Linked DNA regions of Homo sapiens. The protein of the gene in region 3 purifies or fractionates together with the protein of the main gene of each other region. This does not show direct contact. Each region holds a gene or a part of one and is shown on either strand. Other genes may lie near its edges.

Region 1 (3,500 bases), on a different chromosome or scaffold from region 3:
ACGCTTTCCTCCATCCCAACCCCCAGAGACTGAAGGGTTCTGAGGGGAAGCCTAGGACCCTTGGCCCTGGCCCCAGCTTCCTCCCTCCCCGCAGGTTGTCTCAACTGCAGCAAAGTGTCAGAGCTGACAGAGCGGCTGAAGGTGCTGGAGGCCAAGGTGGGTGAGCAGCTCCCTCCTGGGTGGTTGTTCCCTGCCACAGGCCAGTCCAGGCAACCACCATCCCACCCTCCCCACCTCCTTCCCCGCACCCCATGCTCGCACCCTCAGTGAACCCACAGGGCAGCTCTGAACTGACTCGGCGAGCAGCATCCCCTGTCAGGCATGTCATGGTCTCCTCCAGTGTCCCTCCCTAGGAAGCCTGCTCACAGGTCGTGCCTCAGTTTTCCCACCTGTCAAGCGGAGGGGATACTAGCATCCACTCAGGGAAAACTGTATATGTGAAGCGCAAGTCACAGCCAGCCTGGCCTGTTCTTCCTCCAGGAGGCCTGTGAGCTCCCTCCCATGGGGCTCCATCACCATCCCCACCAGATCAGCATAGACACTGCCCAGAGATCCTGGTAGGATCTCCTGCCTGCCCCTGCCCCATCCCCTTTCTCTATCCCCCCAACCCCCATCCATAATACTATCTTCCTGGTTTCAAAAACAAAACATCTATCACACATCTCAAATTATTTCAAGATAAAATGTTGTGTATTTTTTGTTTTGTTTTGTTTGAAACAGGGTCTTCCTCTGTTGCCCAGGCTGGAGTGCAGTGGCGAGATCTCAGCTCACTGCAACCTATGCCTCCTGGGCTCAAATGATCCTCCCACCTCAGCCTCCTGAGTAGCTGGGACCATAGGTGAACAATACCACATCCAGCTAATTTTTAAATTTTTGGTAGAGATGGGGTTTCTCCATGTTGCCCAGGCTGGTCTTGAACTTCTAAGCTCAAGCAATTCACTGTCTTGGCCTCCCAAAGTGCTGGGATTACAGGTGTGAGCCGCTGCGCTGCCATAAAACTTTTTTTTTTTTTTAAATTAAAAAGTACTGCTTGGCGCAGCGGCTCACACCTGTAATCTCCATACTTTAGGAGGCCGAGGCAGGTGGATTGCTTGAGGCCAAGAGTTCGAGACCATTCTGGCCAACATGGCATAACCCTGTCTCTTTTAAAAATACAAAAATTAGCCTGGCATGGTGGCACACACCCATAATCCCAGCTACAAAGGAGGCTGAGGCTTGAGGATCACTTGAACCTGGGAGGTGGAGGTTGTAGTGAGCCAAGATTGCGCCACTGTATTCCAGCCTGGGTAACAGAGCGAGACTCTGTCTCAAAAAAAAAAAAAAAAAAAAAAACAAATTAGGCCAGGCGCAGTGGCTCATGCCTGTAATCTCAGCATTTGAGAGGCCGAGCCGGGTGGATCACAAGGTCAGGAGTTCAAGACCAGCCTGGCTAAGATGGTGAAACCTCATCTTTACTAAAAATACAAAAAATTAGCCGGGGCCGAGTGCCGTGGCTCACGCCTGTAATCACAGCACTTTGGGAGGTCAAGGAGGGCGGATCACCTGAGGTCAAGAGTTCAAGACCAGCCTGACCAACTTGGAGAAACCCCATCTCTACTAAAAATACAAAAATTAGCCGGGCATGGTGGCGCATGCCTGTAATCCCAGCTACTCGGGAGGCTGAGGCAGGAGAATCGCTTGAACCCGGGAGGCAGAGGTTGCAGTGAGCCGAGATTGTGCCATTGCACTCCAGCCTGGGCAACAAGAACGAAACTCCATCTCAAAAAAAAAAAAAAAAAAAAATGAGCCGAGTGTGGTGGCAGGTACCTGTAATCCCAGCTACTTGGGAGGCTGAGGCAGAGAATTGCTTGAACCCAGGAGGCAGAGGTTGCAGTGAGCCGAGATTGCACCACTGCTCTCCACCCTGGACGACAGAGCGAGACTCCGTCTCAAGAAAAAAAAAAGTAATTAATTAATTAATTTAAATTAAAAAGTACAACATTCTAAATTTAGAAACATGAAAAATTCAGAAATGTGAAAAAACAGCCAGCAAACCATTCACAGCAGTTGCCCATGCCCCCAAAGAATGCAACTGTCGACACTTAAGCATCCTTTCTTCCAGATTTTCTAAACACACAGACATGCATACACTTTAGTGCCATTCTTTGCTCCATCATTCCCTTCTCTGGAAATTTATCTTTTGTTTGTTCGTTTTGTTTTGATTCAGAAACAGGGTCTTGCTCTGTCACCCAGGCTGGAGTGCAGGCATTGCAATCTGCCGTGAGTTGGAGCTCACTGCAGCCTCCAATTCCTGGGCTCAAGCTATCCTCCTGCCCCAACCTCCTGAGTAGCTGGCATTACGGACATGTGCCACCACACCTGGCTAGTTTAAAAAACTTTTTTTAGAGCTGGGGTCTTGCTATGTTTCCTAAACTGGTCCTGAACTCTTGGCCTCAAGGAATCCTCCTGCCTCAGCCTCCAGGAGTGTTGGGATTACAGATGTGAGCCATTGTGCCCAGCCTGGGAACTTAATGAGATTATCAGATGCAAAAATGTTTACCAATAGAGAAATTTGAAAACCAGGCAAAAGAAGGCATGGTTGTATAATTGTGGAGAATTCATTCTATGGGGCATTCAGCAGCCATTTACAATACTTCCCTTCCCTAATATGAAAAGATTTCTCTAGGCTGGGCATGGTGGCTCACACCTGTAATCCCAGCACTTTGGAAGGCCGAAGCAGGAGGATTGCTTGAGGCCTGGAGCCCGAGACCAGCCTGGGCAACATAGCAAGACTCCATCTCTACAAAAAATTAGCTAGGCTTAGTGGCACACAGCTGGCACACAGTCCCAGCTGCTTAAGAGGCTGAGGCAGGAGGATCACTTGAGCTCAGACGGACAAGGCTGCAGTGAGTCGTGATAGCACCACTGCACTCTAGCCTGGACGGCAGAGCTAGACCCTGTCTCTAAAATTAAAAAAAAGAAGATGCCGCTGGGCGCGGTGGCTCATGCCTGTAATCCCAGCACTTTGGGAAGCTGAGGCGGGCGGATCACATGAGGTCAGGAGTTCGAGACCAGCCTGACCAACATGGAGAAACCCCATCTCTACTAAAAGTACAAAATTAGCCAGGCTTGGTGGCGCATGCCTGTAATCTCAGCTACTAGGGAGGCCGAGGCAGGAGAATTGCTTGAACCTGGGAGGCGGAGGTTGCGGTGAGCCAAGATCACGCCATTGCACTCCAGCCTGGGCAACAAGAGCAAAACTCCACCTCAAAAAAAAAAAAAAAAGAAGATGCCCCTGATTTATCAAATGGGAAAACCAAGCTTCCAAATAGCGTGTGCTGGCACCTGAGTTACAAGGCACGGGGTTCCAGGAGCAGTTCCCTGAGCTCCCTCCCAGGAGAAGCCCATGTAAGAGGCAACTCAGTCCCACATCTTGATGGGAATTCCTGGTTCAGGATCTGCCAGAGAGTTTCAGCTTTTCTCTGGACAGGCCCCCACGATCCCTGAGCCCCTGATCTGTG
Region 2 (3,500 bases), on a different chromosome or scaffold from region 3:
AGTGCTGGGAATACAGGCATGATGTATTTTTAATTCTTAACATTTTTCTTCCCAATAGAGATCAAGTGACTAGGCTTTTAGTTTTCCATTTTGATTTTTGCTGATGCATGTTTCTAAATAATTCATATTCCAATAGGAAAAGATGGTAAAGCACGCAATAAAGACAAGAGGAATGTAAAGAAGCTCGCAGTGACAAAACCGAACAACATTAAGTCAATGTTCATTGCTTGTGCTGGAAAGAAAACTGCAGATGTGAGTTTCATGGTTTCCTTATTTTTTGTATTTTCCTTTGTGAGGTGAATTTAATATTTGATTATACAGATAACAGGTGCTCTGTATATATTTGAGTAACATTTTTCCAATTTCACTCACTAAGTTGGATGTAGATTTCTAAGTGAATTAAGGCACCTCAGTGGTTGGAACTTGCGAAATGGAAAAGAGAATTGAACAGAAAAGCTGAATTGAGAGTGTGTTTAATTTTAGTGAGTAGCAGGAAGATCATGGATTAAGGGCGAAAGTAGAGGATGGGAGCTATAGATGTAGGAATGCTATATACACAGGTGGTTGTTAAAATCTGTGAATGTAGATGAGCACTCAGAGAGTGAGGAATGAAGAGGCAAGGACTAACTGGCTAGGTCCTTCCTTTCATATACATGTGTGTAGTTTTGGTGAGACATTTTAAGTGCAAGGCTTTCTCATGTTACCTTTCTTTATCATTTCCAGAAAGCTGTAGACTTGTCCAAGGATGGTCTGCTAGGTGACATTCTACAGGATCTTAACACTGAGGTAAATGAATCTCCAGGAGTTGTAAAATATGCAGAGGACATAGACTGAAGAAACACTCTAGTAATTATACAAAACAGACTATTGCCAGAATTTTTTCTTTTTTTTTGAAACAGTAGCTTGCACTGTTGCCCAGGCTGGTGTGCAGTGGTGCGATCTTGGCTCGTTGCAACCTCTGATTCCCAGGTTCCTCTTCCCTGATTCCTGCCTCAGCCTCCCGAGTAGCTAGGATTACAGGCACCTGCCACCACGCCCGGCTAATATTTTGTATTTTTACTAGAGACTAGGTTTCACTATGTTGGCCAGGCTGGTCTCGAACTCCTTACCTCGTGATCCGCCTGTCTTGGCCTCCCAAAGTGCTGGGATTACAGGCGTGAGCCACTGTGCCCGGCCTGTTGACAGAATTTTTTAAAATGTAAGAACGCCAACAAAAAACCCCCCACCAAAAAACAAAGAAACCCCCTTCAGATTGGTTTTATCCCACCATTTTAGGTGAGTATTTCCAGCTGTTAGAGCTGTGTGATTATGTAGATAGGGATGTGTGGGTGTGTGTTTGAAGTAGTAAGAATATACCCAGGAGTCAGTTCTGTGAGTGCTCACTGCTTGTGTTCAGTTGCTGTGGTGTATGTTCCCTAAATAGATTGAAGCCTGTCAATCTGCACAATCAGGTATAAGAGCCTTGTCTTGAATTCTGAGTGGGAATGAAGGAAGAGTGAGTGAACTATCCCTGATAGAACTCAAACAGGATTAGCTGCATTGTGAATTTGAGATTTGGCCATTTCCCATAAAGACTACGCTCTCATTTAGAAGTGTACTTCTTTTAAAGTGACCATTGATTAAAATGACTTAACAACAACACCATGTAGTTTTATCTTGACAATTTTTAAATGTAATATTCTCAAAGGGTCAGTGAAAGTATGTTAAATTTTAAGAAGAAAAAATTTGGGAGGGGGTAGATTTAATATCTATTTTAGTTTTCTTGTGATTTCTATAGTATTGTTGCTATAGTAACCACAGTACATGACATCGATGGGAGGGGGGAGGGGGAAAGGGAAAGAAAAGAAAGCTTTGCTTATTGGGCTTCAATGAGTGAAGAAGTATACTTTTTCTGTCTGTGGTAAACCAAGCATGGCAGTGAATATGTCTTACCTTTCCTTTTAGACACCTCAAATAACTCCACCACCTGTAATGATACTGAAGAAGAAAAGATCCATTGGAGCTTCACCGAATCCTTTCTCTGTGCACACCGCCACGGTAAAGTGTGTAGAGATACCTTCAATCTTGATTTATAGTATTGCTTTAAACTTATTTTGTTGCTTTTCTGTATGAGGGAAATACCTTTACATTTGTTTTTGATTTTTGTTTTAAATTAGGACTCCCATTCAATTTATAGTTTCATGTATTTCAAAAATAGCATGTGCCTGCCTTTTTCATAGTAAATTTGCAGTAACTAGTGTGTGTTTATTATAGGTATTACAACTGTGGTAAATGCAATAATTTTCCTCCCAGAAGCAAGTATTTTTTTGTAAACCTAGGTAACAGTAAAATAATTGAAGCTGTTACATTAATAATACATAAAATCTTTTTATAAAAGGGAACTGTCATTATCTTTGGTCAGGGTAGGACAGTTGCATATTTTTAGTATGTAGGTCTAACTGACTAAATATTTAAAAACGTTTACAGGCAGTTCCTTCAGGAAAAATTGCTTCCCCTGTCTCCAGAAAGGAGCCTCCATTAACTCCTGTTCCTCTTAAACGTGCTGAATTTGCTGGTAAGTGTGATGTCAGGCAGAATTGCAAGAGTGTTGAGTGGTTTCTGTCAAAAATGGAGGCCCTATGATGGAGGAGGTAGAGGAGATTTTGAAGGTGTTGTGATGGCAAGTTTAAATGTGAAGATTTGAATTCATAAAAATTTCAGTAAAAGTTAAAAACACCCAATTTGGAGATTAAAGAGAAATGCAAACATAGTATAGAAAAGGGACAGGCTGCTATTTTAGTGTTGGATAAGCCTTTGTGCGCCTTTGTGTGCCTTTGTGTGCCTTTGTGTCATCGCAATAACACATGACAAGAATGTGTGATGATGCCTACAGGCGATGATGTACAGGTCGAGAGTACAGAAGAAGAGCAGGAGTCAGGGGCAATGGAGTTTGAAGATGGTGACTTTGATGAGCCCATGGAAGTTGAAGAGGTGGACCTGGAGCCTATGGCTGCCAAGGCTTGGGACAAAGAGAGTGAGCCAGCAGAGGAAGTGAAACAAGAGGCGGATTCTGGGAAAGGGACCGTGTCCTACTTGTAAGAGCATTTTATGACTTTTCTGGCAAATAGGACCACAATTTTTCTGTTGGATTTTGAAAGGTTTTTGAAAATGTGATTTCTGCAGAGGAAGTTTTCTCCCGGATGTCTCTTGTTGGGACATTGATCAAGAAGGTGATAGCAGTTTCTCAGTGCAAGAAGTTCAAGTGGATTCCAGTCACCTCCCATTGGTAAAAGGGGCAGATGAGGAACAAGTATTCCACTTTTATTGGTTGGATGCTTATGAGGATCAGTACAACCAACCAGGTAATCATATATAAGGTAACTATATGCCTTTAACTCAGAGTAGGACTTTTCCCTTAAATATTTTATTTTTTGTTTCTTTTTGTGTGTTTTGTCTTTTTATTTAATCAGTTTATTTCTGTTTTTTTTTTCTTTATCCTTAAATACTTGAGTCACTGTAAT
Region 3 (3,500 bases):
GGGTCTCAGGAAAATGTACTTTGTTTTATTCTTTTGTGTGAAGGTCCTCTGTGTGAAACTGCCAATTCTTACTTGGATAGCTTTGGCCTTACTTTACACCCTGCCCAGATGGTTCTATTAGCATCTGGCCAAAGGGCTTCAGATCAGGGCAGACTCTTCGCACTGTGCCTTGAAGTTTTCTTTGGAAAGCTATGTGTACCTTTTTTTTTTTTTTTTTTTAATTCTTGGAGCATAGTCAGGGTCTGTATTAACTTGCTTCCTGAAGAATTCCACCAGAGGGTGGACAGCCTGGGAATGCATTATTTGACAATTTGGAAAGCAAAGGCTCTGCTCCCTGCAAAAGTCTCCTCTAGTGAAGAATGTTCTCTCTAAAGAAACAAGGTCGGGCGTGGTGGCTCACGCCTGTAATCCTAGCACTTTGGGATGCCAAGGCGGGTGGAGTGCCTGAGCTCGGGAATTTGAGACCAGCCTGGGCAACACGATGAAACCCCATCTCTACTAAAATTAAAAAAAAAAAAAAATTAGCTGGGCATGACGGCGTGCGCCTGTAATCCCAGTTACTTGGGAGGCTGAGGCAGGAGAATTGCTTGAACCCGGAAGGCGGAGGTTGCAGTGAGCCGAGATGGCGCCATTGCACTCAAGCCTAGGTGACACAGTGAGACTCTGTCTCAAAAAAAAAAAAAAGAAAAAAGAAACAAGATTAGATTATAGAACTTATCATCCAGATTTGGAAATGACTGTGTGTCATTTTATGCCCTTTCTCACTAATGCGACAGACACCTATAGTGAGAGCCGGTTAAAGAATGGTGCTGTCTCCCACGTCACTTCCACTGTGGCATTTCCTTAAACAGGCTGATGGAACTATTCCCAATTGACCTGTCAAACTGTTGCTATGTTTTTCTTTTTCTAAAGTAGGAGGGGAACTTTCAGCATAGGAAAGCCTTAGAAACACATCTGCTAAAGTAAGACAGATCCAGGTTTGAATCCTGCCCTGGACCCTTATTAGCTCTGCCCTTGGGCAGGTTACTTAACTTTCTGACCCCTTTGTTTTCTCATTTGCAAAATGGGTCACTGGGGGGATTAAAGATGTATAATAAGCATTTGATAAATACTTTTTGAATTAATGAAAAGGGCTCAACATAGTGTTTGGCTCATGGTATATTTCCAATAGGAAATATCTATTATCATTATTTGTAGGTACCTAGGTATTGCTTATGGTATGATAATAATAATAGGTAACATTTACTGAGCATTTACTATTGCCATGCACTGTGCTAATGCATTACACACTTTATCCCATTGAATCCTTATAACAACCTTATGAGATAGGTACTATTACTATTCTGATTTTAATTGATGATGGAAAATAAAGCCCAGTTCAAGACTGCACAGCTGGTGTATGAAAAAACAATAGGCACTAGGATAATAAACAGAGTTGGAATCTCAGGGCTGCCTCTTAGCAGCTATTTGACTCCTGGCTACTTAACCTCTCTGTCTTTAATTTCTTTATCCCTAAAGTGGGTTAATAATGCCTGTCTCCAGGAGTCATTGTGCAATCAAATGAGATAATAATGTGAAATACTTGGCCCAAACTAGGGTCTCATTAAAATGTTTGCTCTTATTTCCACCATTTCTTCCTGACCGAAACTCCCCAGGGCAGAATCTTGTTCTTGTGGGCAGACATACCACTCTCCACAGAGCAGAGATTCTCAGACTTCCATGTACTTCTGAGTCACTGAAGAGTTTGTTAAAATGCAGCTTCCTGGGCTTAAGATTCTGAGTCAGTAGATCTGAAGTAGGGCCCAGGAATCCACATTTTAAACATGTTCTCCCAGTTACTTCTGCCAATACAGGCAGGCACCACACCTGGAGAAATAAGACTGAAGTAAAATAGCCTGTAATCCTGGCACTTTGGGAGGCCAAGGCAGGTAGATCACCTGAGGTCAGGAGTTTGAGACCAGCCTGGCCAACATGGTGAAACCCTGTCTCTACTAAAAATACAAAAATTAGCTGGGCATGGTGGTGTGTGCCTGTAATCCCAGCTACTAGGGAGGTTGAAGCACAAGATTCACTTGAACCCGGGAGGCGGAGGCTGCAGTGAGCCGAGATTGCACCACTTCACTCCAGCCTGGGTGACCATGGAGTGAAACCCTGTCTCAAAATAAATAAATAAAGTAAAATATATCAGTCCAATTTTCTGGAATCTTGCTAACTCATTATAAACATATTTATAGTCATGAAATCTGAAAACTTCTCAGTGTTAGAAACTCACCTTTATAGCTTCAGCTTCAGTGTAAAGCTCAGAAAGTGTTTCAATGAATGTAGTGTTTCCAAAGATACTGACATGGTTTCTTTTTTTGCGGGGGCGGGGTGTGGACAGAGTTTCACTCTTGTTGCCCAGGCTGGAGTGCAATGGTGCGATCTCAGCTCACTGCAACCTCTATCTCCCGGGTTCAAGCAATTTTCCTACCTCAGCCTCCCGAGTAGCTGGGATTACAGATGCCTGCCACCATACCCGGCTAATTTTTGTATTTTTAGTAGAGACAGGGTTTCTCCATGTTGGTCAGGCTGGTCTTGAACTCCCGACCTCAGGTGATTCACCCGCCTCAGCCTCCCAAAGTGCTGGGATTACAGGCGTGAGCCACCGCGCCCGGCCAACATGGCTTCTTTAAATACTGTCTTTCTCAGAGAGGACTGAATCTGGAATTGAACTCCAAATAACCAGACGACAGCCGAGCGGCACATTACATTTGAGTCATCTCAGTCTCTTGGCTCTTGGGTGTTTGAAAAGTAGTATTTTAGATGTCTTGAATATCTGGCATTGGTAATGGTAAGTGGTAAAGCCAAAATTTTTGTAAGGTGGCAAACATGTAGATTCTATTTCAAGCAACAGCATTAGTTATAGGATTTGAAGATAGCATATAGGACATTTGATTTTTTTGAGAAGAGGAAATTAAATGGTCAGCCATGCATTATCTGCAGGTGAATTTGCTGTTGTTACAGAGTTAATCTGTTTGTTTGCAAGTATTTGTTGAAGCTTACTTAGGTTCTTTGGGGATAGAAAGTTTGGCTGACCCTAGGATGTTTTTTTAATTAGTTAAATTAGTTAAAACTTTGTTTTATTATCTGCTCAATTACAGGGAAGTTGTGATCTGGTATCCTTTTAAGTCCATTCCTAAAAACAGGATGTTATGTATGCCTCTAATAAAGTGGGAAATAAGGGAAAATTAAATTTCTTCAAAAACAGAGTTTCTCAGTGAGGCTTTACTAATTTAGAATTACTTGCCAGAACATTAGCGAATCCCATTTAGATTGGAGGGGGATAAACATCCTAAGTTCAGATCCCCGTGGAGCCACATGCTAACATGGAAGAATGTAAAGTAGAGAGAGTTCTGCGGAGGCACTGCCAAGAGAGGAAGCTCATAGGAAGTCATGACCCTCTGATTACCCTCTTTCTTTCTTTCTTTTTCTTTTCTTTTTTTTTTTTTTTTTTTTTTTTT

The links.
Region 1: the proteins of ALDH1L2 (region 3) and EMID1 purify together in Homo sapiens (co-immunoprecipitation; one large-scale study listed by IntAct). This does not show direct contact.
Region 2: the proteins of ALDH1L2 (region 3) and POLA1 purify together in Homo sapiens (affinity purification with mass spectrometry, with the first as the bait; one large-scale study listed by BioGRID). This does not show direct contact.

What each region holds. Positions count from the first base shown.
Region 1 is NC_000022.11:29,226,396-29,229,895, forward strand, and holds part of EMID1 (EMI domain-containing protein 1 isoform 1 precursor), read left to right. Parts: intron 1-94; coding exon 95-156; intron 157-3,500.
Region 2 is NC_000023.11:24,714,418-24,717,917, forward strand, and holds part of POLA1 (DNA polymerase alpha catalytic subunit), read left to right. Parts: intron 1-136; coding exon 137-252; intron 253-723; coding exon 724-786; intron 787-1,944; coding exon 1,945-2,037; intron 2,038-2,466; coding exon 2,467-2,554; intron 2,555-2,872; coding exon 2,873-3,074; intron 3,075-3,162; coding exon 3,163-3,341; intron 3,342-3,500. UniProt on the Homo sapiens protein: Catalytic subunit of the DNA polymerase alpha complex (also known as the alpha DNA polymerase-primase complex) which plays an essential role in the initiation of DNA synthesis.
Region 3 is NC_000012.12:105,074,459-105,077,958, reverse strand, and holds part of ALDH1L2 (mitochondrial 10-formyltetrahydrofolate dehydrogenase precursor), read left to right. Parts: intron 1-3,500. UniProt on the Homo sapiens protein: Mitochondrial 10-formyltetrahydrofolate dehydrogenase that catalyzes the NADP(+)-dependent conversion of 10-formyltetrahydrofolate to tetrahydrofolate and carbon dioxide.